Homo sapiens: one gene and its partners. The protein of the gene in region 4 interacts with the protein of the main gene of each other region in a biochemical or structural test. Each region holds a gene or a part of one and is shown on either strand. Other genes may lie near its edges.

Evidence for each region.
Region 1: of the proteins of SIK2 (region 4) and CRTC3, one has a biochemical effect on the other in vitro, tested with the Homo sapiens proteins (one study listed by BioGRID).
Region 2: of the proteins of SIK2 (region 4) and CRTC2, one has a biochemical effect on the other in vitro, tested with the Homo sapiens proteins (2 studies listed by BioGRID).
Region 3: of the proteins of SIK2 (region 4) and ACACA, one has a biochemical effect on the other in vitro, tested with the Homo sapiens proteins (one study listed by IntAct).

What each region holds. Positions count from the first base shown.
Region 1 is NC_000015.10:90,602,312-90,610,264, forward strand, and holds part of CRTC3 (CREB-regulated transcription coactivator 3), read left to right. Parts: intron 1-12; coding exon 13-74; intron 75-2,073; coding exon 2,074-2,136; intron 2,137-5,066; coding exon 5,067-5,167; intron 5,168-7,953. UniProt on the Homo sapiens protein: Transcriptional coactivator for CREB1 which activates transcription through both consensus and variant cAMP response element (CRE) sites.
Region 2 is NC_000001.11:153,948,180-153,956,132, reverse strand, and holds part of CRTC2 (CREB-regulated transcription coactivator 2), read left to right. Parts: intron 1-966; coding exon 967-1,068; intron 1,069-1,143; coding exon 1,144-1,260; intron 1,261-1,816; coding exon 1,817-1,878; intron 1,879-2,526; coding exon 2,527-2,595; intron 2,596-2,763; coding exon 2,764-2,867; intron 2,868-3,160; exon of another isoform or gene 3,161-3,234; coding exon of another isoform or gene 3,235-3,253; intron 3,254-3,298; coding exon 3,299-3,328; intron 3,329-3,482; coding exon of another isoform or gene 3,483-3,497; coding exon 3,498-3,562; intron 3,563-3,686; coding exon 3,687-3,736; intron 3,737-3,870; coding exon 3,871-4,115; intron 4,116-4,466; coding exon 4,467-4,873; intron 4,874-6,748; coding exon 6,749-7,018; intron 7,019-7,232; exon of another isoform or gene 7,233-7,299; intron 7,300-7,488; coding exon 7,489-7,675; intron 7,676-7,803; coding exon 7,804-7,953. UniProt on the Homo sapiens protein: Transcriptional coactivator for CREB1 which activates transcription through both consensus and variant cAMP response element (CRE) sites.
Region 3 is NC_000017.11:37,084,165-37,089,462, forward strand, and holds the end of ACACA (acetyl-CoA carboxylase 1), read right to left. Parts: intron 4,911-5,298; coding exon 4,774-4,910; intron 3,276-4,773; coding exon 3,152-3,275; 3' UTR 828-3,151; downstream 1-827. UniProt on the Homo sapiens protein: Cytosolic enzyme that catalyzes the carboxylation of acetyl-CoA to malonyl-CoA, the first and rate-limiting step of de novo fatty acid biosynthesis.
Region 4 is NC_000011.10:111,724,219-111,732,078, reverse strand, and holds the end of SIK2 (serine/threonine-protein kinase SIK2), read right to left. Parts: 3' UTR 5,115-7,860; coding exon of another isoform or gene 5,022-5,114; 3' UTR 4,027-5,021; coding exon of another isoform or gene 3,869-4,026; 3' UTR 1,224-3,868; downstream 1-1,223. Other genes in the region: PPP2R1B (serine/threonine-protein phosphatase 2A 65 kDa regulatory subunit A beta isoform), read left to right, coding at 3,869-4,026. UniProt on the Homo sapiens protein: Serine/threonine-protein kinase that plays a role in many biological processes such as fatty acid oxidation, autophagy, immune response or glucose metabolism.

The DNA of each region.
Region 1 (7,953 bases), on a different chromosome or scaffold from region 4:
TAAAAATTCTACTTTGATGGTAGTGCTTTTGGAGCCAATTATTCCTCACAGCCTCTGGATGAGAGTTGGCCAAGGTAAGCAAGACATACTTTAAAAGATATGATGGGCATGTGTTATTTTTAGATAATTTCACTTTATCCACTTTGAATGTTGTTTAGAAATTTCTAATATAAAGCATAGAATCCTGTTTTCTCTTATAACATTTAATTTCAGTGGGAGGATCACTTGAGACCAGGAGTTTTGAGGCTGTTGTGTGCGATGATGGGGCCTGTGAATAGCTACTGCACTCCAGCCTGGGCAGCATAGCAAGACGCCATCTCTTAAAAACAAACAAACAAACAAAACAACAACAACAACAACAACAACAACAAAACACCTTATTGGCCGGGCATGGTGGCTCATGCCTGTAATCCCAGCACTTTGGGAGGCTGAGGCGGGCAGATCACAAGGTCAGGAGATTGAGACCATCCTGGCCAACATCATGAAACCCCGTCTCTACTAAAAATACAAAAATTAGCTGGGCATGACAGCACATGCCTGTAATCCCAGCTACTTGGGAGGCTGAAGCAGGAGAGTTGCTTGAACCAGAGAGTCGGAGGTTGCAGTGAGCTGAGATCACGCCACAGCACTCCAGCCTGGTAACAGAGTGAGACTCCATCTCAAAAAACAAAAACAAACACCTAAGCATTTCCAATGATAGGCTAATATGAAAGTCTAAAATGAAAAGTTATTTAAAGAAATCTAGATCTTCATATTTAAAACCAAATAGAAACACTTTTGGAATATATTTACCAGCAGAATACTCAGATATGGCATTCTTATGTTTGAGACTTAGAAAAATAAGCATCTTGGCCAGGCACGGTGGCTCATGCCTGTAATCCCAGCACTTTGGGAGGCCAAGGCGGGCAGATCACAAGCTCAGGAGATCGAGACCATCCTCGCTAACACGGTGAAACCCCGTCTCCACTAAAAATACAAAAAAGTAGCCGGGCGTGGTGGCAGGCGCCTGTAGTCCCAGCTACTCGGGAGGCTGAGGCAGGAGAATGGCGTGAACCCAGGAGGCGGAGCTTGCAGTGAGCCGAGATCACGCCACTGCACTCCAGCCTGGGTGACAGAGCGAGACTCCATCTCAAAAAAAAAAGAAAGAAAAATAAGCATCTTTTCTCAGAGTGTCTTAGTAAGCTGCTGAAAAGGACAAAAGACTCTTAAAATGGTAATTTGCACAGTGTATTTGATTTAAGGTCTCTTTGAGTATTTTTGTACCCAATACAGAGGGTAACAGGAAATAGAATTAACTGAGAAAAAGCCCCTGCTGCATCTGTTGTGTGCCTAGTATCATTTTCAGATCACCAAGTCAGATTTAGGACACATTTAAAATGTGTGTATCAAAAATATTTAGCTCTCCGGATTGAAGTCTACTCTCCATCCATTCTCTGGGCAAATACTGACTGAGAACTTACTGTGTATAATGTAGTCTGGATCTGGGAAAGGAAATAAAGATGGGTAACAGTGGGTCCCCACCTCAGGTAGGTTTTCAGCTGCCCTCAAGAATCTTGGGATCCAGGGTTGTAGAATAAATACAATATTTTATTACATCAGTAAAAGTCATCTCCAAACTGTTATTTTTCTTTTATGTATCCAAGAAATGTCTTCTGCTTTTCAGAGCACCAGGACTGGTTAGACTTAATATTTTCATACCCTGGGCAACTGTAACAATTCTATTCCTCTTCATGGCCATTGGTAGGGGAATGCAAAATTTTTGCATCCAAGATTGCCACGGCGCCCCCTACATGCACACTGAACTCCTCATCTGCCCAGCTAGCTAATCCTGTGCCTTATGGGTTTGTAGTAGTTTTTATACTGGAAATCAGAGATCACAGGACTGGAAGGATCATGGAGTCTTACCTCATTTTAACAATGATGAGCAAAATGAGCGAGGTGTGGGGTATTTTTAAGTAACTCTTGCAGAGCGAGGTGAGTAGAAGAGCCAGTTCTCAAATGCAAGTGCTGAGGCCCTCCTTTGCTGTCTGTGGATTGACTTCTTTTCCTTTTATGTTGTTCTGGTTTTTAAAGGCAGCAGCCTCCTTGGAAAGACGAAAAGCATCCTGGGTTCAGGCTGACATCTGCACTTAACAGGTACATGGGTTGTTTCCTGGTAGGAGTAGATTTTAAAGCAATTTAACTGTCCTGATATTTTTTACATAGCATCCAGTTGCCAGAGTGTGTTTATGTAAGCTGTGTTGATATGACATGTTCAAAACAAAACCCACCATTTTTTGAGTGTCTACAGGGGAAAGTATAGAGCACACGAGGTCTGGGATGAGACTCCCAGGGTTTGCATCTTGCTGTATGACCTTGAGTAGATTTTTAAACTTCTGATTGCCTCAGTTTACTCATTTGAAAAATGGAGATAATGCTACCTAGATCATGGGTTGGTTGTGAGGGTTGAATAAGATAATACCTGGGAAGCATATGTGCTGAATAAACATCAGCTATTATCATGATCACTTTGGGCCAGACTCCAGGAGTAAGAGTTCTACCTCAGCCATTTTTTTTCAATCCTGACAACACCCTACAAGAATGAGTATTATTTTCCATTCTAAAAGGTTAAGTGACTTGTTTAAGGGCCTTAGCTAATAGGTGAAGGACTAGGATTTGAAAAAATGCAGCTGAGCATGGTGGCTCACGCCTATAGTCCCAACACTTTGGGAGGCTGAGGCCAGAGGATCGTGTGAGTCCAGCAGTTTGAGGCCAGCCTGGGCAAGATGGTGAGACCCTGTCTCTATGAAAAAAAAAAAGGCGTGGTGGCACGTGCCTGTGGTTCGAGCTACTCAGGAGGCTGAGGTGGGGAGGATCACCTAAGCCCAAGGAGGTTGAGGCTGCAGTGAGCCATGTTTGCGCCATTGCATTCCAGCCTGGGCAAGAGAGAGACGCTGTCTCAAAATAAAAAAGAAACCCGATGAATGGTGCAAAATTTTAAATATACTCAAACAGAAGAGTTATAAAAGGCCTGTGGTGCCCATCCTCAGCTTCACTCATTATCAGCATTCTGCCAGTCTCTCCAAACCTACCTCCCACCTCAGTCCCGTGACTGGCTAGTATAGTATTGTACCTTGAAATGTCTCCAGCAGTTTAAGGCCGACGAGAACCTTTTTTAAAAAACATAACCACAATGCCGCTATTACACTTAACAAAATTAAAAATAACTCCTTAATATAATTCAATGCCTGGTCGGTATTTAGATTTTCCCAGTTGGCTCTGCATTCGTTTGATATTCTCTTGAGTCTCTTTGAATCTGTAAAAAGAGGCTGGAATCTGAACCCAGGTCTCTCTGATCTCAGCGGCCACGCTCTTTCTGTTGCACTGTGGGTTCTGCCCTTGTCTGCCTCTTCCCTCCTCTGAAGCCACGTGGCTTCATAGCCACCTGAGGCTGTCACTGGAATGAACCACAAAGAAGCACTGTAGGCTAATGAAGTTGCTTACCGTAAAGTCCTTTCTATGGCCGACAGTTTGACCTTATGATGAGATAAATAGATAATCATCTCTTGCAACCAAAGCTGTGTAGACATTGAAGCTATCTGGGAGAATTTCAGAAATTTGCTATACATTAGTGGCTCCCACATTTTCTTTTAGGACTACTTTACAGCCTTAAAAAACATGGAGGCCTGGCGCAGTGGCTCATGCCTGTCATCCCAGCATTTTGGGAGGCCAAGGCGGGCGAATCACCTGAGGTCAGGAGTTCAAGACCAGCCTGGCCAACATGGTGAAACACCGTCTCTACTAAAAATACAGAAATTAGCCAGGCATGGTAGCGGGTTCCTGTAATCCCAGCTACTTGAGAGGCTGAGGCGAGAGAGTCGCTTGAACCCGGGAGGCAGAGGTTGCAGTGAACACCACTGTACTGCAGCCTGGGCGACAAGAGTGAAATTCCATCTCAAAAAGTAACACTAGTAAAATAAAATAAAATAGGCCAGGCACAGTGGCTCATGCCTGTAATCCCAGCACTTTGGGAGGCTGAGGCAGGTGGATCACCCGAGGTCGGGAGTTCGAGACCAGCCTGGCCAACATGGTGAAACCCCGTCTCTACTAAAAATACAAAAGTTAGCTGGGCATGGTGACGCACGTCTATAATCCCAGCTACACGGGAGGCTGAGGGAGAAGAATTTCTTGAACACGGGAGGCAGATGTTGCAGTGAGCCGAGATCACACCACTGCACTCCAGCCTGGGCAACAGAGCGAGACTCTGTCTCAGAAAAAAATAATAAAATAAAATAAAAAAAATATTGAGGCCCTCAAAGAGTATTTGTTTATGTGAGAATATCTATTGATATTAGAAATTAAACTGAGAGATTTTTTAAAGATACTAGTGAATTAAAAAAATAATAAGCCCATTACATGTTAACATAAATTATATCTTTTTGAAAAGAAACACAAAAAAAGTATTGAAAATAGTGACAATGTTCACCTTTTACAAATCCCTCCAAGGCAGCTGGGTGGTCTGTGCCTGCGCTCAGCGGTGGGGGCATCACACCTCACGTGGCCGCTGGGGAAGCCCGCCGTGCTTGGGAGAGAGCGAGAGTGAAAAAACAGAGGACACTTTACTATCATTTTGAGAATAGTCTTGATCTTACCTTCTCCCTGGAAGGGTTTTGCAAACCACTGCTCTAAGTGATCCTTTACTTAGAAACAGCTACTCTCAGGTGGAGAAAACCTAGTGCAGCCACAGGCTAAACTGGCCACAGCCAGCTTCCGAGCTGGGAAGAATAGGAAGCTCTTAGACGGAAGCCATGAATCCGAGGCCCACCTTGTTGAACTTGATCGCCATGCCATCAGCTTCAGCATATAAGGCTATATGAGTCTAAGTTAAAATATTCTGGAGTGTGGGCGATCCTCAGAGGCTGTTAATTGATATAAAGAACTTCAGGTAGGTCCTAACCCCTTATTTGATGGTTGATTATAAATCAGTTATTCTTGCCTTCTTTCCTGTTGGTAATATTCAACAAAGACTATTGCATTTTCACTAAGGAAAACGGATTTTCAGCCAGCCTCTCTCCTCCCCTCCTTAGGACCAATTCTGATTCTGCTCTTCACACGAGTGCTCTGAGTACCAAGCCCCAGGACCCCTATGGAGGAGGGGGCCAGTCGGCCTGGCCTGCCCCATACATGGGTAAGACACACAGGCCACTGCTGACAGCAGCTGTGCTTGCTCATTCTGTCCTAGGAACCAAGGGAGAGAGAAGCTGAAGTGGTGTTTGCGCTTCCCGGTTCAGTGATCTTAGAGAGGCAGCTCGTGGCAGGGAAGCGTGTGTGTCCATGATGCAGTCAGGATGGATGGAGCTCCCAGCGTCCCCTGCCTCTGCCCTGCTTCCTCCACAGCACGCTCTCCCTCTTGGTGTCTCTTGGCCCTCTTCTGGGCACCCGTCATCTTCTAATAACTTCCTGACTGGTCTCCTGATTTCCAGTCTCACATCCCTTCAATCCAGTTTTATGTTAAGTTCCCCAAGAGTCCTCTTTCCCCACCCAGGATCTGAACAAACTGAGAAATACAACTAGAAGTGACAGTCAGAGCTAGATATCACCTTTATTACTACTAAGACCAGGTTGGAGGAAGTGACTGTCTCTGTAGGTTGGTGGGCCTGCTGAGACTGAACCCCAGCATGAGGCTGACTCCCCCTGAGTGGCTGGCAGCACTGGCCAGTGTGGTCCCCTGGGAGGAGGGGTCAGGCAAGCCTCGGGGAGGGAGGGTGGAGCAGAGGCCTGCTGCCTTGAGATGGGGGAAGAGGAGGTCGGGCTGGAACTGTGCATCACCTGCTCAGTTGCCCCCTGGCCACTGTGAGTAAGGGGATGGAGAGAGGCCAGGAGTAACCCGGAGTGGGGAAGAGGCCCACTCATGCCATCTCACAGCTCTGCTTCCAGAGCGAACCCAAACCTGATCATCTTGCTCTCCCACTTAAAATCCTCAGTGCCACCCCTCACCTTCAGGAGAAAGAGCCCAGATCTTCTTTGGAATGACATGAGCCCCAAGGCCTGGCTCCTGTCTGCCTCTCTCCCTTTTCTCTCTGCTCCCCCGCCTCACACCCAAGGTAGCCATGCGAACCACTTTGGGTTCTACTGGTGTTTCTTCCTGTTCCTGTCTCTTCCTCTCTCTCTCACTCCTGGCCAGCACCCTCTCCATCCGTAAGCCTCAGCTTGTGTGTGTCCTCATGTCTGTGGAGCCATCCTTGACCTTCCTTCCTCTCAGCTCAGAGTTATCGTGTCCTTCTAACATCCCAGACTGCTCTCTTAGCACCTGCAATGCTTGGCTGCTTTTTTATGTGAACATGCATCTCTTTCTCTGCTCAGTGTAGATTTCTTGAAGGCAGCATCTTAATGGTCTTGTTCTCTCCAGCCCCTAGCACAGTGCCCGGCACAGAGGAGCCCGTACTGATGGAGAAGTGTGAAGAATCACACACTGGCTCACATGTGCACGGCATTTGCCAAAACACCCTCTCGGTGCTGGCACCTGACCTGTACATGAAGTGAGGCTGGTCATTCAGACACATTTCAAGCCTACCTTTCTGGGGTTTATAATCTAGAAAGAACAATGGTCTTGAATTATCCATTCCATATGCAGATTGACTCTTGCCCAGAAACTTTCAGGGCTGTGTATTTGTTCTTGAAACAGGAATAAATAAATCTTTAGCCAAGAAACCAGCTTTTCTGGTTTTCTTTGCTTTTTGGACAATTTAAAGCCTAAATGGCCTCTGTTCCTTCCAGGAGAACACTTATGATCGTATTTCTTTGTATATAGCAGGGATAGTACTGAATAATAATTGTTGCTATATTTGTTCTATTGGTGCAATTCAGAGAAGACTACATTTGCTTAAATGATTGTTTGCTTGTAAACTATGGGAGCTTTCAGAATTGGTTAGGGACATCTACCCATGCTTCCATACATGGGAATATGAAAGTTGGCAGTGATGTTGAAATTGATGTTGGAATTGGATATGGGTGCACTGCTCACTGCTTAGAGGAGTGGGGTGTGTGGGAAGAGGGATGAGTTTAGTTTCAGGATAGGTAGAGATGGGAATATGTAAACAAAGCCTAAAAAAAGCAGAGGCTGTAATCAGTGGGGGTGCCTGTGAGCACAGCAGGATCCTAATCTCCATGGACCGGGAGCCAGCTAGACAGACAGATTTTTACCCTGGAGCTCCTGCATTTCTGCCTCTGCCGATCCTTCATTTACATTACCCTCTGCAAAGTTTACACTTCTCTAGAAAGGGCCAAAGGCCTAGAGAAACAAGGCAATCACAGGTAATTCAAGTGAGGATTTTTTGAGGCTTGCATGCTAAGAAAAAGAAAGTAACTGAAGAAAGAAATTACCTGAGCTGAAGTATTCATTCTTAGCGATGTAGCCTCTGAGAGAAGAGGTGAGAAATGTCAGAAGGGGTAAGTGAGGATGGAATAAGAAAAGCAAAGGAATGTAAACATTGGTCCAGGTAGACAGAGCAATGAGAAAAACAGGAAGAAAGAAAGAAATCCTGGATCAGGGTTCCTGCGTTGACTTGAGAATCGTGGTGGTCTCTCCTTTTCAAATCAGCAGTTAGAAATTGTTGGGCTACAATATCTGACAACCATGGAGGGTGGGCTGGCCTCCAACTCAGATGTCTGAACTGTGTGCCTGCTCCTGCAGTTGCCTTGCAAGTATAGCAGAACTCAGAAACACATCCTAATATGGATGTGTTTACATGGGAAAGCCAGTGTTTAAAATATTATTCAAGTCTCCAAGGATGGAAATTATTTCTGGAGAATTATATTTGTTGGTGGGAGCTATTTTAAATAGTTTCATGTATTTTCCTCCTGTGTTTCATTAAAGTTTTTCATTTTCTTTCCTTTTGGATTTTAAAACTATCAACTGGCTTTGCAAAAAGGTATTTCTTATAGGACCAACCAAAGAAAGATTTAAACAGTGAT
Region 2 (7,953 bases), on a different chromosome or scaffold from region 4:
CAGGCTTTGTGTAGCCTTCCTGAGGCTGGGCAAGTGGCAGAGCCCAGAAGCCTGTGCTCTCCAGAGTGGGAAGGAAAGAGGCTGGCAGTAATGGCTCTGTGACATCCACCTGTGGCCTTCCTCTTAATCTCTCAATTAGTCCTGGACGCATCTGGAAAGAAAGCAGAGGTTCCTAATAGGCACTCCCCCTTGTGAGTAGCCCGGGAGCTCCTGGCAGCCCCTCAGGGACTCTGCTTAGAGTGATGCCAAATGAGACAGGCCCTCAGCAGAGTATCTGTCTCTGCCTGGCAGGATGATGTCAAGCAGTAGTGATATCATTGATGAGGGCAGTCTGCAGATGGGCTCTGGTGGGTTATTTGCACCAAATCTCGGTGGACCTTTCAAACCCCAACACTGGCCTTTTTTTTCTGGCAGATAATTTCTTTATTTTTTTTTTAACTTTTTTTTTTTTGGAGACAGGATCTCAGTCTGTCACCCAGGCGGCTAGAGTGGAGTGACATAAACATGTCTCACTGCAGCCTCTACTTCCTGGGCTGAAGTGATCCTTTTTTTTTTTTTTTTTTTTTGAGACAGAGTCTCTCTCTGTTGCCCAGGCTGCAGTGCAGTGGCACAGTCTCGGCTTACTGCAACCTCCACCTCCCAGGTTCACGCCATTCTCCTGCCTCAGCCTCCCGAGTAACTGGGACTACAGGCGCCCGCCACCACGCCCGGCTAATTTTTTGTATTTTTAGTAGAGACAGGGTTTCACGGTGTTAGCCAGGATGGTGTCGATCTCCTGACCTTGTGATCCGCCTGCCTCGGCCTCCCAAAGTGCTGGGATTACAGGTGTGAGCTACTGTGCCTGGCCTAGATATTTTAAAAGCAGTGGCGGCAGCAGCATATCCTGGTGACAGAGATGGCAAGGATGGCTGAAGGAAATAGTGCTCAGGACCCTCCTGACATTCCCACTTGTTCCCCATGTCTCAGTTACAGGCCCAAAAACTGCGACTGGCATACACAAGGAGCTCTCATTATGGTGGGTCTCTGCCCAATGTTAACCAGATTGGCTCTGGCCTGGCCGAGTTCCAGGTGAGTAGACCCCAGCCAGGGAGGAGTGGAGTTTCTTAGGCTGCTTCCTCTGCTGACTTCTGTCCTTTTTGGCAGAGCCCCCTCCACTCACCTTTGGATTCATCTCGGAGCACTCGGCACCATGGGCTGGTGGAACGGGTGCAGCGAGATCCTCGAAGAATGGTGTCCCCACTTCGCCGATACACCCGCCACATATCCTTCACAGGGGACTTGGGAGTGTCTGAAAGGTAGTGGGATGGGGTTCCTCAGGGACTCATAGGAAGCACTTGAAGTGTTGTGCGTCCCTTCCTTCTCTTGGAGCTCTTCTTTACCCAGCTTCCCTGAAAAGCGACCATAGCCCCTGCGTCAGCACCTGCTCCTGTGACAAGGAGTTTTGCTCCTGAGGCTGTGCCCCCTGTCTCTGGCTGGCTCTGGCTGTCTTCACATCAGCTTGCTGCCAGAGGCAAGCCTTCCTTGTCTCCTGCTAAAGGAGATTGGGTCTCTTCTCAGATTTCTAAGTTTTCAGTCTCAGAGACCTGCATAACTGTCTCCTCCAAGCCCTGCCTGAACATTCTCCTGGATTTTTTCAGCCCCTTTAGACCTGATTCCCTTTTTCTCTTCCATTCTTTGATCCTATTGTTGTCCCTTATAGAAGAGGAGAAAGGTATGAGTTTCTTGAAACAACTTATCTGCTGCCTTCATTGTTCTTTCCTCATTTGGCCTCTCTCATCTGTCCTCTCTACTTTTTTCCTTAACTGGTGCTGTTCACATTGACAGCTCTCCCTATAGTCCTGCCTACTTATCTCCTCCCCCAGAGTCTAGCTGGCGAAGGTAAGTGTCCAGGGCGGGCAGAAGCTCCTGCCTACTCTCTGACGTGTTTCTGGAAGGAGTTGCCCCTTCTGGGTTGGGGCTGGGATTACTGGGCTAAGGTTTCAACAGTACCTCTTCCTATAACGCCAGGGCTGAGAGAGGTGGAGACAGTTGGAGTAGGTGGGTCAGAGTCCAGCCTTGGCCATGTTGACACTAGTGGTCAAGCCTCCCAGTCCAGCCAGAGCAGAACCAATGGGAACCATAGCCAGGCTGGGGTGTGTGTGTAAGGGGGAGGGGAGAATGGCAGAGGGGCAGGTGAAAATGGCAACCTTCTGTCAAGGGTGGGTGCAAGATGTAGTGTTCTGGCACTTTTAGATTTCTTAAACTCTCCCCTTGTCCATCTCACTTTCAATGCTCATACCCAGGAATGCTGCTGGGCTCCAAGATTCCCATTCAGCTGGTCCTGGCAGAGAGAAGTTTCCAGCTCTCTTAGATTGACTGGGGGAGGGGTCAATCATAGGCAGGAGAAGAACCAGAAAGAAAAGGGGATGATCTGGGTGCTCAGCCATCTTTACTTCCACCTTAGCTGCCCCACATTTTCCAACCCCTATGCCCACCTTCTTGTCCACTGCCAGCCTTCCTCCTCATGACTTTGTTTTTCTACCCCAGGACGATGGCCTGGGGCAATTTCCCTGCAGAGAAGGGGCAGTTGTTTCGACTACCATCTGCACTTAACAGGTGATGGCTTTTGCCTTCTTTAGGCCAGATCTCTTATCTGTAGTTTCTGGGGCCCTGCTCCCTCACCCCCACCCTGTTCCAGACCAGCTAGTGTTTTCCCTTGCTGGGCAGGGCTTAGGGACCAGGAAGACTGTCACTGGTGTCAGCTCATTCCTGCTCCCCCCATAGGACAAGCTCTGACTCTGCCCTTCATACAAGTGTGATGAACCCCAGTCCCCAGGATACCTACCCAGGCCCCACACCTCCCAGCATCCTGCCCAGCCGACGTGGGGGTAAGTGGCCCTGTCCCAGGGTTGGGAGTAACCATGGAGCTATTTATTTATTTATTTATTTATTTATTATTTCTTTCTTTTTTGAGACGGAGTCTCACTCTGTCGCCTAGGCTGGAGTGCAGTGGCGTGATCTCGGCTCACTGCAACCTCCGCCCTCCGAGTTCAAGCGATTCTCCTGCCTCAGCCTCCTGAGTAGCTGGGATTACAGGCATCTGCCACTGTGCCTGGCTAATTTTTTGTGTTTTTAGTAGAGATGGGGTTTCACCATCTTGGCCAGGCTGGTCTTGAACTCCTGACCTCGTGATCCACCTGCCTCGGCCTCCCAAAGTGCTGGGATTACAGGCATGAGCCACCATACCCGGCCTCCATGGAGCTATTTAAAGCAGGTAGGCAAGTGAGCACTGCAGCCAATGCCACTGTATCCCTTGCAGGTATTCTGGATGGTGAAATGGACCCCAAAGGTATGTGTTCCTCACTGCTGTGGGTACTGAATGCCAAAGAATTTCTGGGCTGGTGTTGGGATTGTGTGCAGGTTCAGGGAGCAGGACTCCTTCCCACCTGCTTCTGCTTCCTGTCCTGCCTTACTGGCTCTTTCTCCAACTCTCCCATCACCAGTCTTTCTCTTTCAAGTACCTGCTATTGAGGAGAACTTGCTAGATGACAAGCATTTGCTGAAGCCATGGGATGCTAAGAAGGTAGGAGGAGGCCACCGGGTGTCACCCACTAGTCTCTCTGCTATCCCCTTGCCATGGGGCAGGCCTTCCAGGGTTCTCTGCTGAGCACTGTCCTCATTTTCCATATTCTCCCTTCTCTCCTCAGCTATCCTCATCCTCTTCCCGACCTCGGTCCTGTGAAGTCCCTGGAATTAAGTAAGTACTCCCTGAGGTTGGCTGAGAGGTGGGGGAAGGAAGTACAGGGAGATGTAGGAGACTGATCTCTGCTCTTCCCTGACCACTGCACCCACCCTCCTATTTACATCTTTCTTTTTCTCTCCTTCCCCTAGCATCTTTCCATCTCCTGACCAGCCTGCCAATGTGCCTGTCCTCCCACCTGCCATGAACACGGGGGGCTCCCTACCTGACCTCACCAACCTGCACTTTCCCCCACCACTGCCCACCCCCCTGGACCCTGAAGAGACAGCCTACCCTAGCCTGAGTGGGGGCAACAGTACCTCCAATTTGACCCACACCATGACTCACCTGGGCATCAGCAGGGGCATGGGCCTGGGCCCAGGCTATGATGCACCAGGTGAGTGACTGTCCTGGCCATGTGCCCACTGGGTGCTGCCTGACTGGAGGGATGAAGGGGAGGTAGGTTTGAGCACCTGAGATCCTGCTGTGATCACCCACACCGCCTGTCACCTCTGCACCCCAGGATTCCCTCACGGCAGTTCTCAGCCAGTGATAACTGGTAGGTGTGGTGTTTCCTAGAAAGAAGAGGAAGGGCAGTCCCCAGATGGGCAGTGCTGTCAGGGATAGAGTAGGGAGGACGTTGTGTTGCCGCTTTCATAGTCTGGTCACTGCCACCCATTCTGGGTGGAAAGGGGCTCAGTTCCCATCAGTAATGTTGGCATCTCTGGTTTTTTGTCTGTGCCTGCAGGACTTCATTCACCTCTCAGCCACCCATCCCTGCAGTCCTCCCTAAGCAATCCCAACCTCCAGGCTTCCCTGAGCAGTCCTCAGCCCCAGCTTCAGGGCTCCCACAGCCACCCCTCTCTGCCTGCCTCCTCCTTGGCCCGCCATGTACTGCCCACCACCTCCCTGGGCCACCCCTCACTCAGTGCTCCGGCTCTCTCCTCCTCCTCTTCCTCCTCCTCCACTTCATCTCCTGTTTTGGGCGCCCCCTCTTACCCTGCTTCTACCCCTGGGGCCTCCCCCCACCACCGCCGTGTGCCCCTCAGCCCCCTGAGTTTGCTCGCGGGCCCAGCCGACGCCAGAAGGTCCCAACAGCAGCTGCCCAAACAGTTTTCGCCAACAATGTCACCCACCTTGTCTTCCATCACTCAGGTATGCGTGGCTGCCTTCCCTGCATGTCTGTCTCCCTTCCCTTTTCTCCTGCCATGTTGTTTCCCTCCCACCCTCCTTTCCTGAAATACCTACTCTATACTCATCCCCTTCCATTCCTCTGTCCTCCGCCTGCCCCATCTTTTATCCATCTTGTCTCCTCTTGCTTCACAGTGCAAACCCAAACGCTGTGGTTAAGCTTTTTTAGCTTCAAACCCTGGCTCCACCTCTTACTAGCAGTCACCTTGGACAAGTTATTTAATTTCTATAAGCCTCAGTATTTTCATTTCTAAAACAAGGATGGTTCATAAGGATCAAATGAAGTAACATACATAAAATACTTAGCACCACACATAGCCCAGGTATGCTTGACAAATAGTAGCTTACCCTTTCCTTTTATTTGCCTCCTCTGTTCCTGTCTGTTTTATATCTGTCTTTTATCTCATGCCTCTATCTTGTCCCGTCTCCTCCCCTGTATCCCCTCCTAATTTCATAGAATTCGTAGAATCAGTCAATTTCCTACTGTGGAGCCCAATTCCTTCACTTAATAGATGAGGAAAGTGGGACCTAGAGGGAAAGTGACTTTTCCAAGTTTACCCAGCAAGTTAGGAAGAGTTGAGACTAGAACTCGAAGCTCTTAGTTTAGGGCTTTTTCCACAGAGATGAAATTCTTAGCCCTTGTCTCCCTTCCTGTCCTTTTCTTCTTGTTCTCTATCTCTACTCCTCTTTTCTTTCATCCAAATGCTCTTTTCCCTCTCCTCTGCCCAACTTTTCCTCCTCCATTGCTATCCCTGGAATGTGTGTTCTGTGTTCCATCTTTACTCAGGTCCCCTCTTTTGTAGGAAAGACTGAGGCCAGATTAGCAAGGGCTCTGTTCCCAGAGTGTGGAGTGAGCTTGACTTCCCTTCCTTTCTTTCTCCTTTTCTTTCTTTCTTTTCCCACCCCCTCTGGCCTCTTCAAGGCTGTAGAACAGCAGTTCTCAACCTTAGTTCCTTATTTACTAACAATAAATAGTTCAAGTATCAAGATTTAAGAATGGTTTACTTCTAAGGCTAGGCACAGTGGCTTATGCCTGTAATCCCAGCACTTTGGGAGGCCAAGGCGGGAGTTCAAAACTAGCCTGGTCAATATGGTGAGACCCAGTCTCTACAACAAATAAAAAATTACCCAGGTGCAGTCGCGCACGCTTGTAGTCCTGGCTACTGGGGAGGCTGAGATGGGAGGATCACTTGAACCAGGAAGGTTGATGCTACAGTTCCAACTATGATTGCACCACTGTACTCCAGCCTGGGCAACAGAGTGAGGCCCTGTCTCAAAAAAAGAGAATAGTTTACTTCTGGAGTAGATTTAAAATTACCCCTGTGTTAGCCTCACTATATCACTTTCATTCTGATAGGCACTTTTTTTTTTTTGGAGACGGAGTCTCGCTCTGTTGCCCAGGCTGAAGTGCAGTGGTGTGATCTTGGCTCACTGCAACCTCCCACTTCCTGGGTTCAAGCAATTCTCCTGTCTCAGCCACCCGAATAGCTGGGACTACAGACGCCTGCTACCATGCCCAGCTAATTTTTATATTTTTAGTAGAGACGGGGTTTCACCATGTTGGCCAGGCTGGTCTCGAACTCCTGACCTCAGGTGATCCACCTGCCTTGGGCCTCCCAAAGTGCTGGGATTACAGGCATGAGCCACCACACCCTGCCAACTAATACACATCCCTGGGGTTGAGTAACTGCACTCAACCCCAGGGATGCCCGTGAGAATGTGGAATGTTGTCATGTTTGTTTTGGGAATGGTTGTAGCTAAAGAAGGTGGGAAGCTCTGACTGAGAGTTCTTGGGGTATACACTGAGCAGTAAGCTTCCCTCTTTTTACTTCTTTTCAGGGCGTCCCCCTGGATACCAGTAAACTGTCCACTGACCAGCGGTTACCCCCATACCCATACAGCTCCCCAAGTCTGGTTCTGCCTACCCAGCCCCACACCCCAAAGTCTCTACAGCAGCCAGGGCTGCCCTCTCAGTCTTGTTCAGTGCAGTCCTCAGGTGGGCAGCCCCCAGGCAGGCAGTCTCATTATGGGACACCGTACCCACCTGGGCCCAGTGGGCATGGGCAACAGTCTTACCACCGGCCAATGAGTGACTTCAACCTGGGGAATGTGAGTACTCAGGCTCCTTGCTCAAAAGCAGGGGAGTGGGTGAGGGTGGGTCAATGGGGCCTGAATGGCATGGCTGGTGCACTGTGAATGGGGAGATCTAGGTGGGGTGGGTGGTGGGGAGATCTCCTCTCCCCGGAGGTAACATAGCACTGCCAGCTTGGGGCTCCTCTCTTCCTGCGTTTGACCCTACTCCTGCCCCTCTATTTCTGCTCAGCTTGCTCTTTGATGACTTCTGCCTTGACCCGTTCTCTTCCTGGCATGCACATGCTCTGGCCCAGCAGGTACGGTGCCCATACTTACTTCGGGCCCCGTGCTCGCTTCTGTCGCTCTGCTTGCTGCCACCTCCCTCTGTCATTGCCTCTGTTCCTGGGGTGGATGAAGGTTGCTGGGCAAAGGGGATATGTTAGCAGGGCTAGGCAGGACACCAGTTCTAAATCCTACTTCCTAAAGATTTGTCTGTATGTCTATAGCTGGAGCAGTTCAGCATGGAGAGCCCATCAGCCAGCCTGGTGCTGGATCCCCCTGGCTTTTCTGAAGGGCCTGGATTTTTAGGGGGTGAGGGGCCAATGGGTGGCCCCCAGGATCCCCACACCTTCAACCACCAGAACTTGACCCACTGTTCCCGCCATGGCTCAGGGCCTAACATCATCCTCACAGGTGAATGGGGGTGGGTGGTGATGGGAAATGGAAGGAGGAAGTGACACATTCACTAATGAGTAGGAGATTGAGGGGTCTTGGAAAAGTTTACAGGACATGGGGTCCTCACCTGTCTCTTCTACCCACAGGGGACTCCTCTCCAGGTTTCTCTAAGGAGATTGCAGCAGCCCTGGCCGGAGTGCCTGGCTTTGAGGTGTCAGCAGCTGGATTGGAGCTAGGGCTTGGGCTAGAAGATGAGCTGCGCATGGAGCCACTGGGCCTGGAAGGGCTAAACATGC
Region 3 (5,298 bases), on a different chromosome or scaffold from region 4:
GCTGGGACTACAGGTGTGTGCCACTGCTCCCACCTAATTTTTTATATATTTTTAGGGGGTTTCACCGTGTTAGCCAGGATGGTCTCAATCTCCTGATCTCATGATACACCCACCTCAGCCTCCCAAAGTGCTAGGATTATAGGGGTGAGTTACCATGCCCAGCCCATAGAAAGTTTTTTTAGAGAGAGAAACTGAGGCAGAGGGTTGACGGCATGGAATCATGAGCTTCCTGCCCCGAGTGCCTTTTTGTGCCCAGAGTTAAAAATCCATGAATAGCTAAAGAAAGAAAATCTAAAACCTTCCTCTCAAATCTCTAACAAGGGCCATGCGGCCCCAGTGTTTACACTGAGTTATCAGAGCACTCTCAACTTCCTGTATGCTGAGAAGGGACTTCTGAGGAGGACAGTGGGCTCTGGGCTTCCAAGGCCTGGAGCTGTTATCCTCACTAAACAGCTGTGGTCTTTCTTGTCCCTGCTCTAAAGACATTCTCTTTTGGAGGGGACATTCCTGCCAGGACTCCCATCCAGCTCTCAGCAGGAAGAAGTTTCCCATCCTGAAAAACTCAACAGAAACTAAAAAACTGACCCTCTGCTACGGGGTTCCCGAGCATTTGTAGCCTTTCAGAGTTTGACCTTGATTCAGCGGATAAGACAGGGCTGGCCAAGGCCAGCTTTTTACTGCCTACCCATCATCTTTATGCAAGTTCAGGAGACAAAGGGCTTTAGGTGTTACAGGGCCATGGAGGGGCTTGCCCCACACTGAGCCCCTGCTGAAAGCAGAACAAGAAATGAGGTGGCTGGGCATGGATTGAAATGACAAACTGTAACTCTTCTACAAATGTAGAGGTTTATTTCAACAAAATGTGTAAAGAGTGCATCTGAAGCTCCTGCTCATCACAGTATGTGTCCATCAAATTCTGAGACAAGTGAAGGCTGTTTTGTGAACGAAGAGAACAGATAATATGGCGGTCTCCGTCCAAGCAGGTCTTGGTCAATATCCATCATTTATACTCCTCCTGCCTTAGTAGCCTTGCATGTTTGAGGGGCTGTGGGAATGTCAGATTGCTCATGTTCTGTGCCTCCAACTTGAAAAAATCCTTGTCCAGGGTAAGACCTACAGTAAGGAGCTCTGGGGATGGGGGAGGAGGCATTACAGGGTTCTAGAGAGGAAACATACTCGTTTGTGTCATAATTTGGTGGGGAGAGGGGAGGTAAATGAGTGTAACCCACCCTGCCTCTGAAGACATGCCTGGACAGGCCTCCTGGGGGGTGCAGGACTTCATACCACTTGTAGATATGTGGGATTTGATTTATTGCAAAAAAGCATAGAAGAATAATCTGGTCAAAAATGAATCCAATTCTTACTAGGTAAGCAAATAGCCAGCAATGGTCAATGCATTTTCCTGGACTGAGAATTGTCCCCCACCACTTTATGCCCTTTTCTGAAGGTGCTGAACACCTGTACCTTCCACCAGGGCAGCCGGGCTGAGGCTCTGACTCCTGGGGGCTGTCCGCTCCATACCCAGCCATACAGTGCCCACCTGCAACCCAGAACCATTGAAAAGTCCAGCCAATCTATCCGCACAGATTCCTCCTGAAGAAGGGGAGGTGGAGCTCGTTCTTGTGTGCAAACTACAGGGTTAAGGCTCAGAACTGTGGCTTGTCCAAGAACGTTCATACCACTGCTTCTCAAATGTCTTAGTGATTTCCTCCTTGGTCATCAGTGACAAATGCAGTTAGCTGCACTAAAGGAACCGGATGCTACACCAGCCCTGATCACCTGCCACTCTTGCTTTAGGAACAGAGGAATCAGTAAGTTCTTTTCTTGAATAAACTAGTTGTTGAAAGTAAACTCTCTCCACCACCTGAGGAAGCCCCTGATGCCAGTCAGGAGGGGCCAGTAAGCCTGGAGGACAGCAGCACCATGACTGAGTTGTAAATAATCTTAAGGTCATGTGGATTCTGTGTTTCCTGGAAGCCTCCCTCATCAGGAAGGCCAGCTCCTGGTGCTGAGGGTGTAGCTGTCACCAGGGTCCTTTCAGAGCTGTGGGGAGACCTGCTGCCTGTCTACACTCTGGGGAAGAGAGTAGAACCGTTAGCTGCTAGGACAGTAATCCTGGAACTAGGGAAGAGTGAGTGTGGAGGCACCATTAACCTCTCAAAACCATCCAAGCTCCAGGCTTCATAGGAACAACTTTCCAAGTCCTCAAAACAAACAGACTATCTATCTATCTCACTGGCTCTCCACATGGCATAAATAACTAGTTTCCACCAGTGCAGAAAGGGCAGTTCTCTTCTGGCTCCTCCTCTGCCAACTCAGGCTTCACCACCTGTGGAACTGCTGGGGCCCCTCAAGCACTGGCCTTGCAGCTCCCAGCCACATGCGACAGCTAGTCCAGCAGTGACGTGCAGGCGAGAGGCAGGCCAACAACTACCTTTCCCTTTGTCCTCAGAGACTGAACCCAAGGTTGAGGTCCCCTAAATCAAGAATAACTGGTTCTATTTTCTTTCTCTGCTTCTTGGCTCACAGTTTTGCCCTCATCTTTGAGTTCCTATGGAGCTTGTAGTAGATTTTATGCTCTAATTTTTCTTCATAAAAGGTACCGTAGTGTGGTTAAACTGGGAATCATTCCTCTCCAGTGCCTACTGTGTGCTGGGCTAAGAGTCGGGGTAATAAACAATGGACTTGAGGCTTCCTCCTCTCCTTAGCCCTCCTCTGCTGCCTGTGGCTGCGGCTCATGGGGCCAGGAGTGAGGGGGGCTGCTCACTGCTGGGCAACTCCTCACGCTTCCCCATGCTGGGAGGCCAAGGGGCTGTCAGGACAGGAGGGGCAGCCCTACTTTGGTTAGTAAGACCTCATGGTACATGTTTGTACCTTTCATTGCCTTCTCAGTCCTGTGCAGGGAGTGGAGGACTAGGCCTGGCCAGGGTAATAAATACTGAATGGGGTAGGTGTGACTGGTGGGCTGGAGGGGGATTCTGTGATCTTACATCCCAGGATGTCATGCATAACCTGAAACGAGAGGAAGTAAAATGCCATTTGACTCCAGTGCTGGGTCTCCTGTGCCTTCTCATTACAGTGGTTACAGTTGTAAAAGGCAGCTCTAGCCCTTTTCTCCAGAGACAGGGCAGGGACAGGCAGGAAGCTCTTCCTACGTGGAAGGGGAATCCATTGTGGAGAGGATCCGTATGACTTCTGCTCGCTGAGTGGGTGATATGTGCTGCGTCATATGGATGATGGAATCCATGGCAACCTCTGGATTGGCCTGGACCAAGCTGGAAAGGAAGATTGAGAATGGTGAAGAAAAGAGAAGCAGAAGTGTCTAGATGAGGACAGCTAAAGAACTGCCCAATAAACATGTGTGCACCGTCCACTGCAGACATTTTAGTCACGCCTCACCTTATTTGTTTCCCTATATTACAAATATCCAGCCAAGGTAGTGCAAGACAAACCCAAAACATTTTGCTATGTTGAAAAAGGAATTAAACCCAAAACAAAACCCAAAAAAAACCCAAAACATGCCAATGGGGGCATGTCACAAAGACAGCAATTGGGGCATCAAAAGCAGCCCAGCAATGAATTATAAATCAGTAAAAAATAGAACTTCATGAGTCTGTACCAATAATGTATATATAAAAGAATCGGCAGGAGTGAGGACTGAGTGGTGACTGGTAATTGTGGAGGGTGTGCTGGAGTTGGAAAGTTATCATTTTGCAAGCTCATCGTAAAGACTGCACCAGAGGGAAATTTTGATGAAAGCAAGATACTTGCATGGCCTTAAAATGTCTTCCTGCAGACTACTTATTAGGTGCAAGGGGGGAAAATCAGTAATTATACGGTAGAGAAATGGAGCAACATCTTGACCAGCGGATGAAATTAACACGAGGAGGAGCAGATAAACAGCATGTGCCCCCAGATGTGGTGCCCTGTGAAGGTTCTGGCCAGAGTGCCTCACCTGCATCTCATCATGGGGAGACATCAGACAAACTCAAAATGAGCAATGTTCTACAGATGGTAGATATCAGATAAAAGTTTTTAATCAATGTTAAATTTACAAAAGTGGATCATTTTATGATGGTTATGTAAAAGTATCCCTATTCTCAGCAAATGCACACTGAAATATTTGGGGGTAAAGGCCATGATATATGTAACACCCTTAAGTAGTTCAGAAAGAGGAAAAATGTATACACATATGGGAGGGCAGGCACACTCATAAGTGATATAGCAACGGGGAGAAAATGTAACAGGTAAATCTGAGTACAGATATTATATATAGGGGTGTTCTTTGTACTGTTTTTAATTTTATAACTTTTCTGTAAGTGAAATGTTTCCAAATAAACTTTTACAAAAATGCCCCTGCAGTCTCTACCACCGATCCTATGGAGCAGACTGAAGCCTCTAGAAGAATACAGCTAACTCTTGGCTTCAGGAGGTGAGGAGGTGGTTTCCCAGGAAACCACCACACACACAATCAGCTTTCCTCCCAGAGTTGTTCATCCGGTTTGAGTATCAGCATTCAGAGCTAAGAGGTGGGCACAGTGAATTAAGCCTTCATCTAGCTGAGATTACTAAGTGCCCCTGGGGAGCAGTAGCTGAAAAAGAATTGGGCTTCAGGCCATATCTGTACCTGTGGGTCAACTACAGCTGTCTCAAACAGCAAGAGACTGCAGAGATCATAAGATTTCTGCGATCATCTCATGATTTGTTTGGAAACTTTTTATTCCAAAGAAATTAGCCCTCCTTCTCTAGTGGAGTTCCCCACGTTGGTCTCACCTGCGGATTTGCTTGAGGACGTAGTCTCTGCTGATGCATTTGATGTTTTCCTCTATTACCGAGTGAACACCATCCTCCTCTGTCAGCTGTTTCTCTAGCCACTCCGCCAGATCCTTATTATTGTCCCAAACATAAGCCTGCAAACAGATGACTCTTGGTCAAACACCAGGGGTCAGGCCAGGCCGGGACACCCTGACTATTCAGGATCTGGAGTGCTTGCTTACTCCAAAAGTGTGCTCCGTGTCCACGATTCTCCTTCACTGTCAGCATCGTGCAGGAGGAGGAAGTAGGCCTCGAGGCAGGAGCTGTGCCCCTTCTCCTTCTCTTCCTTTATGGACACAGGTGTACACCTGAAGTCTCCATGGGGCTCTCCCGAGCACTCTGGTGCTCATACCCTGACTCTGTCCTGTCAGACTCTAGGGACCCACCTATTTGACAAAGGCTAAGAGAATTCAATAACCTGACAGGTTTGAGAGAACCAGTTAAAAGCCCAAATTACTTAGTAAAATTGTGATTGAGAAGGCA
Region 4 (7,860 bases):
GTTTGGGGTGCAGGCCTCCCTGCTGCTCTCCTTCCCCACCCTGCTGGAGCCTTCGACTCACAAAGGCTGCAGAACTGAAGAGTGTCCTGGGGAGTGCGGGGTTGGGGCCTAGCTGGCCACTGGTCTGTTATTTTGCCTGCGTCCTGGGGCATTGGAGTTGTTTTTGGCAACACAGAATAAGAATGATGGAGAAATCTGGTGGGAAAGGGAAAACATTGTTACTGAAATTTAGTGCTTTCCTTAAAAAAGAAATGAAACTCAGCAATACTGAAATTTTGGGTAGCCAAGGGGTAACCACCAGTTTAAGGCAGAACTGAGCTATTGTCAGCAGAGTCAGGCAGCAGTGGACGTTGGTGGAGAGGGCTCCGCTCCTTCCAGCCTCTGCCAGTGTGGGCCCTGCCGACTGCACCTTCCCACCGCTACCCAGAGACCAGCGGCTCACCCCGCAGGGAGGGAACTGTCAATGTTCTATAGCATGGGCTTAATTGGAATGGTTTGAGTGAAACCAAATTTCAGTCGAGATCCTGCTGCCAGCAAGCTGGATATAACAGTGGCCTTTCACTCAGGGCCTGGCACTGAAACAGGTCCAGGATGCAGGAGAGCAGCTTGGCACATGGTGCCTCCAGCACCCTGAGGGCGTGGAGCTGGGCCTCAAAAGGGTGCCCCGCCCATGTGAGGGAATGCACTGTGTGAGCGCACGTGCAGTGTCGAGGCCTTTGGCAGACCCCAGAGAAGATGTGACATCGTGACTAAGTAGCAGTGTCTTTTGCCTGGCAGCTCGCAGCACCTCCCCTCCCATTTCCAGCCCCTGCCCTGTAGCTGCCTGTCCTCGGGGACCCCTGCATCTGCCTCCCCTCCTCCTACCGCGGCATGAGGCCCTTGCCCAGGCTACCTGGGCTGATGCGCTTTGCCCTGGGACTCTGAGAATCAAGGAGCAGTAATTAAGCAGTGCCCAGCAGGGCCCTGTCCTTGTGCAGGCTGCGGTTAGCAGTGCTTCCGTCAGCGATCTGCAGCGGCTAACGTGTACTCGGGCGATTCAGAGCAAGGTATTATTTACCCTGCTGACGTCAATGAGAACATATTATCCACTGTCCTTTTCTGCAGCCTGAAATGAGCACCAGAACTCAGAGAACACAGCCACCTTCCATACTCTAAAAATTCCACCCAAGGCCCGATGAGGCAAAAACCCTATCGCATTAACCTGACATTCACATCACCCGGGCTCTTAGAAAAGAAGTTGTTTTTATTTTAATTCAAGAGGGTTGGAAACATAAAAACAGTACATTTTCCTTGCAGAAAATTACCCCATTTAAATTACTATTTGGTACAGAGATTATTTATTACACTGCATTTTAGGCAATTTTCTAACATTAAGTGACAAGTTATACTTTTGATTTTTTTTTTCACATTGGAGCTATTATGATTTGCACTCATAATACCAAAGCTACTGAACTCACCAATTTTTTTCTTAGTAATTAAAAAAAAGCACACAGAAAATATAACTACAGTTAGATTAACTTTATCAAAAGTAACTCTTTCAGACCAAACATCCAGCAAAACCACCCACCTCCCTTCAGATATAAGCAAATAATCTTGCCCTTTCTACAAAGTGCAGATATCTCTGTATCCCTTTTATTTCTCAAACTGCAGTCCCCGAAGTGAAGCAAACCTTTCTCTCCACTTCTTTCCCCTTCAGAGATTTTGGTGAAGGCAGGTTTCTCTTACCACCCATGGTGGAAAGGTCTCACCACTTGAATTTCCTTGACTGAGCAAATCTTCTGCAGACAGACACCACAGAGCCAGCAGCAGCCCATTATCTGCACTGGGGAATGTGACATTATTCCATCTGGGGTCATATGTTTCCAGGATGTTGTTTTGTACTTCTATTTTTAAAGCTCCCCTCTACCCACCCACTTTGCCTCTGAAAAGACAGAGTATTAAGTCAAAGTCTGTTATTACTTTTTTAATCCTAAAAGTAATAAGCACTTCTAGTTGATGGGGCTTGACTGTAAGGAAATGTTACGCCCCTCGTTGAGACAAAGGCTGAGTTCATGACCGTTCCTGGGGTGGAATCTGCTGGCCTGCAGTGGTGGCCTGATGCCGTGCGATGCGGCCCCTTGGCAATTGAGGAAGGGGGTGTTCTGTAGGAAACTGCTGTATTGTAACTTGGAAAAACTAGACATCTTTGAGGTGAGCCTAAACTTCTGCAGTTAACTGGACGCTGAAAGGCAGGCGGGTCTGCGGGGTTTTTGTCTCCCTCAGCCTGGTTCAGTGCACGGCCACCTGGACAGCTGCACTGTCACCTGAAGGCGGCCTCTTCCCCAAAGCCAGGCGGCTGTTGAGTGGAGAATAAGGTTGTGGGAACAATATCACATTCACCCTGTGCTTGACCAAAATGGGGGCTTTGTTTATACAGCTGTTTGCTTATGAAAAGAGTCAGATGCTACTGAGGAAAGAGAAGGGAAAGAGAGGGCTTCTTCCAGCACTAGAAGCCAGAGAACCAAAACCAGAAGCCAGTCAACCCAAGCGCGTGTCCCAGCTCCTTCTATCACCAGCTGTGATCTCAGAGAAGTCACAAACTTCCCAAAGCTTTGGTTTCTTCAGCTGTGAAAAATAAGGACAGTATCTCCCCAGCTAATTTCATAGAATTGTTGTGAGGGTTAGAAGAGAAAGTGCTTGGTAAAACTAATGTACAAATATAAGCTATTGCTCCCTTGTGGGTGGGCGAGCAGAGTATCTGGGCAGAACCCATCACAGCTCTCCCTGGGTGGGTCTGCGAGCACTGCTGCCGCCTGGTTCTCTATCTGTGCCCCAGTGTGTGCCTGAGTCTGCTGATAGGTTGAAACCTGCCTGGAGAAGATGTGGACACAAGGTGGGGGTGCACGTAGGATGGCTGTCTTCTAGAATCAGCTAGGCTACCTTAATTAGGACAAAAATGGTAAAATAAGAATGTGAGAGGCTACTGGAAGGTGAGAGGCTCCACTGCTTTCGTTCACCTGCCACCAAGGGCCAGACAAGGGCTCTGACATTACAGGTGCTTCAGACCACACTGTAGAACCTGTCAGAAGGGAGATGATAGAAACTTTAAGAAAATCTCTTTGTCCAGTTTAGAAACAGAGGCAGATGATACTGCTCTTGTCTTTTTTTTTTTTTTTGAGGTGGAGTCTTGCTCTGTCGCCCAGGCTGGAGTGCAGTGGCACGATCTTGGCTCACTGCAAGCTCCACCTCCCGGGTTCACGCCATTCTCCTGCCTCAGCCTCCCGAGTAGCTGGAACTACAGGCGCCCACCACCACGCCCGGCTAATTTTTTGTATTTTTAGTAGAGACGGCGTTTCACTGTGTTAGGATGGTCTCAATCTCCTGACCTCGTGATCCGCCTGCCTTGGCCTCCCAAAGTGTTGGGATTACAGGCGTGAGCCACCGCGCCCGGCTGATACTGCTCTTGTCTTTCATACATTGCTCTGAAGATAAGTTCTATAAAAAAATTCCAGGTCGGGTGTGGTGGCTCACACCTGTAATCCCAGTACTTTGGGAGGCCAAGGTGGGTGGGTCACCTGAGGTCAGGAGTTCAAGATCAGCCTGGACAACATGGTGAAACCCCATCTCTACTAAAAATATACAAACTAGCTGGATGCGGTAGCACACACCTGTAGTCCCAGCTACTTGGGAGGCTGAGGCAGGAGAATGGCTTGAACCCAGGAGGTGGAGGTTGCAGTGAGCTGAAATCACGCCACTGCATTCCAGCCTGGGTGACAGAGCGAGACTCTGTCTCAAAAAAAAAAAAAATTAAATAAATTCCAGAAGCAACAAAATGATCAAAGATCCCTGCCTGTACAATGACTCCAACTTACGAGCTTCCCTGTTCTCCAATTTTCACCTTTCATGTTTAGGCACAAAGAGACCGAGTGGCTCGGGTGGCTTCCCAGGAGGCAGTTAGAGGCAGCCCAGTTTAGGAGTTTGAGTGTAGCAGGTCAGCCCTGGCACCGGTGTCAGCCACTGTTCACAGGGACTGAGACTGTGAAATGACACACTGCATATTGTCTCTATAGGAGGTCGAATGGGAAAAAGTTACCTGGAGTATGAATTTTCTTTAAACCAATAGGGAGCTTAAATGTGACTGTTGATACAGGTTTTAAAATGTAATACAAACATATTTACGAACCTGGGGCTTGACTAGAGGCTGGAGGACCCCAAAAAGGAGCGCCACTCACTCACTGTGTCCTTGCATCCTCAACTGCCCGCATGTCTCCAGAGGCTGCTTAGTGCCCACACGCCTGGGACCAACTGTGACTCCAGGCTGCTGCTTGTCACCTTGCCTTAGTTTCTGGCTGATCACCTAATCACTCTGGAGCTGAGAATATCCTTCTCCCCACATCTAACCCGTGGGCAGAATTCTGTGAGCGTTTCCCTGCCTTTAGGACTGATGACACTCGGTGTGTGGGTGGAGGTGGGGGAGTCGTCAGTCTTATGATGAGTCTCTTCTGCTGGAGACTTTGGTCCACGAGAGAGGGTAGGGGGCAGGGGAGAGGCCGATACTCCTACAGGGGGGGTCCCCCCTTGCTCCCCATCAAAATGCAGAGCACCCCATTACTCCAGCACCAGAGTTGGGAAGGGACACAAGAGGCAAGGGCTGGCTTCAGTCTTGGGCTCCTGTCTGTCCCAACCACTGACTCCAGCATACGGTTTAAACACTTGGGAGTTCTTGATATCTGAGGAAGAAAGGGCCACTGACTTTTTCTTTCCTAGGAGGCAAAAGTGGATGGAAGAGAGAAGGGGTTTGCTCAGATGGGCATGAACAGCCCCTGAGCCCCATCCCCACTCCCCTGGTGGGCCCTGATGCTCTCCCACGCAGGGATTCTCAAGGTGGATGGTGTAGAGAACCATCAGCCTCCTTTTCCCACGGTGACAGAAGGCAGTGCAGGCAGAGGTGGCGAGGGGGCAGCTGGGGACGGTCAGTGTCACCGGGAATGTGAAAGTGGGCCCCCTCTTCCTGTCGGGCTAACATGCTGTTTGCCTTACAGGGACCAGTGTATCAGTTGCGTGGAGATACTAGAGACACACTTGCCCAGCTGGGAATTGCAGAGCTAGTGCATTTCTCCCAAAGCACAGACTAATACCCCAGATTTAAAAAAAGAACATAAAAAATAAAGTACCACACATATTGCACTTTTTGCCGAACGAAATTTTTACCTCACGTTCATCTCACCAAAGTCTCTTCAGAGGAGCCTGGTTTACAGGGTGATGAAGCTGATGATGATACAGTAGTGTACACACTGCTAACGTGAATCAGACTGGAAAGCAAGTCAGTACTTCAGAGTAGCCCCGCAGAAAAAGAGCGATACTAAGCCTTCTTAGTGTTTTGTTTGTTAGTAGTGATGAAGAGAAAACTGCTTGGAAGCTTCCATGGGTCACTAGTTAGGGACAGAGCAGCACAGGTGATCAGACAGGGCTGAGCAAACACCTGACTGACCAACAGAACCAGTCTCCTCAGCAGCTTACATTGCAGTCAATACAGAGGGTTATGGAATTTATTGATTTCTGCTTGAAATAAACAAGATAAGCAAATAGGAGCTTACAACACAGGTCCCAGCAGGAGGGGTCACGCTCTGCATCAGGCCGGTGTCCACGCCGCTGCCGTGTGTGACGGATCCTGATAGGCCTGGCTGCTGTAGGGCACCTCTCGATTTCTCTCTGGGTCCTTAACCTTCCAGTAGCCTCTCTGCAGTCCCTCATCGGCTGGCCTAACCGTCCTGCCATAGCTCCCAGGTCTCCTGGGCTAAGCAGCTCATGGCATTGTTGGGGGGCAGGAGTTTATGTCGATCTGTAACTACACCATTCCTGCAGTTCTGAAATGAGTGGCCCCCATTTTCAATCTGCAGGCATTTTAATATCGCAAATATTGTAGCACTTCTGTAGTATATTTTGGGAAAACGTCTTCCTTCAGTCTAAACAAATCAAGCCCCATTTTATAACTGGCTATTTTGTAAAGACTCAAAACAGATTAGAGATCTTAATGAAATGATCTCTTAAATGAAATGATGTTCTTTATTTCACGAAATCATCAATCTTAAGCACGAGCAGGAATAAACAACTCCCAGAAGAAGCTTAATTCATTCTTCCTGGATTTTCACTGTGTGTTATTAAATCACAAAAATGACAGTCCCCACACTGCCCTTTCCCACTGACACCAAGTCCAACCGTGAGCACAGTGCCTCTGCGAAGCATCCTGGCACCCATGGTGAGCGCTGGCGACCAGGCAGTCTCTGGCCAGCAACAGGGACTGCTCAAGTTACCGACGTTGGTAGGAGCTGGGCTCGCATGGCCAGAATGGAACCCCCTAGACTTTCCACACGTCACCTGCCTGAACGCTAACTACAAAGAGGAAAGGCAACTTAAAGGTGTTTTCTAGATGCAGCATCAGTTAGTCCCTCTCTTTGTGCTTTAAGGAAGATGCTTTGTGCTTAACACATTCATCTGCTGATGGGACAAGCCATTCTAAAGGGCAGAAATGATCATCTTTAGAATTAACACTGACTTTGTAACACCTGGATGTTAACTGTCCAAATGGCAAATTATTCATCATTTCTAGGGATACAGTTAGCTAGCTGTAGCATCTAATTTTTACTTACTTTGATGACTGAATTGTAAGTGTTGGTTAAGTTTTATTAGTAATATAATGTTTGGCAGATGATCTGCTTAAATGGTTAACACATCTGTGGTTCTTTCTTTGAATATTGCTGTAATACTTGAACATTTCATTACAAGTCAAAACTTTAACGAAATTAAGAATGCTGATTCCCACATGGTGGAAAACAAACTCTGAAGTGACTTTGGATTTAGCATTGACATAAATGGAAACTGTTGGTTTCTACAGAAAAGAAAGAATTAAAGCATGATCTGGGGGAAAGGCACCGCACTACCACTTCACATGGGACAGAAAAGTTCATTTATCATGTCCTTAAAATCTCTAAGCCCTATATGAAACTGTCCAAATATACAAAGCTCAATAAACTACTAGCAACATATAGTGTAAGGTCAAAGTAGTTATTACATCGGAAAAGAGACAACAGGTACCCTGGAGACCGACTGCCCGCAAGCCAGCAGTGTCCACGAGAAACTGCAGGAAGAGCCTGTCTTCCCTGGCCCAGGGCTGGTGCTCTTGATGCGTTCTTGAGTTTCTTGCCCCCTGCCTCCACGGTGGCGGGTCTCCTGTCAGTTCCACGTGTGACACCTCTGGAGTCCTGAGTATATTCTGACACTCGGCAACCCAGGGCACCTTCTGAAGGGGTGTGTCACCTGCTTCCGAATGGAGATGAAGGCGGTTTCTGGGGTCAGTACCAGCTGTTATTTAGTGGCCCCTGAAACACAGCTCATGCCCCACTGCTTTGTGATGGCCTTGGGGGACAACTTGCATCAGCAGCTAAGAACTTAGGATTCAATGACAAAGCACAGCTTTCCTTTATTTCCTGTGCATCTGATTTCCTGATGTCTTCTTGATTTGCCTTGTAGCAATATGTGGTTGCTCAGCTTCAGTGAAAAATATATTGCCTTTTCCCCCATATATATGCAATAGCACACACCCTTTCTGCTTTCACCAAGGTTGCCCTTGATAATAAACGGATGTAATCCTGCATAACACCTGGGTCTGAATGTCTTCTTAGGAACACATTTGTCAGTGCTGCCCTCGAGAGCTTGCTCCACTCGACCGAAGGGCAGGAGCCTCAGCCTACAACTATGTTCCAGCACTTGCCACAGAAAACTTTGTGGTGGGGCAGAACCAGGAGGAAGCAACATCCACCCCAGCCAGACCCTCTGATTCCAGTTGGGTGGCTCGATTTCTCCCCGTTAGGGAGAGGGCAA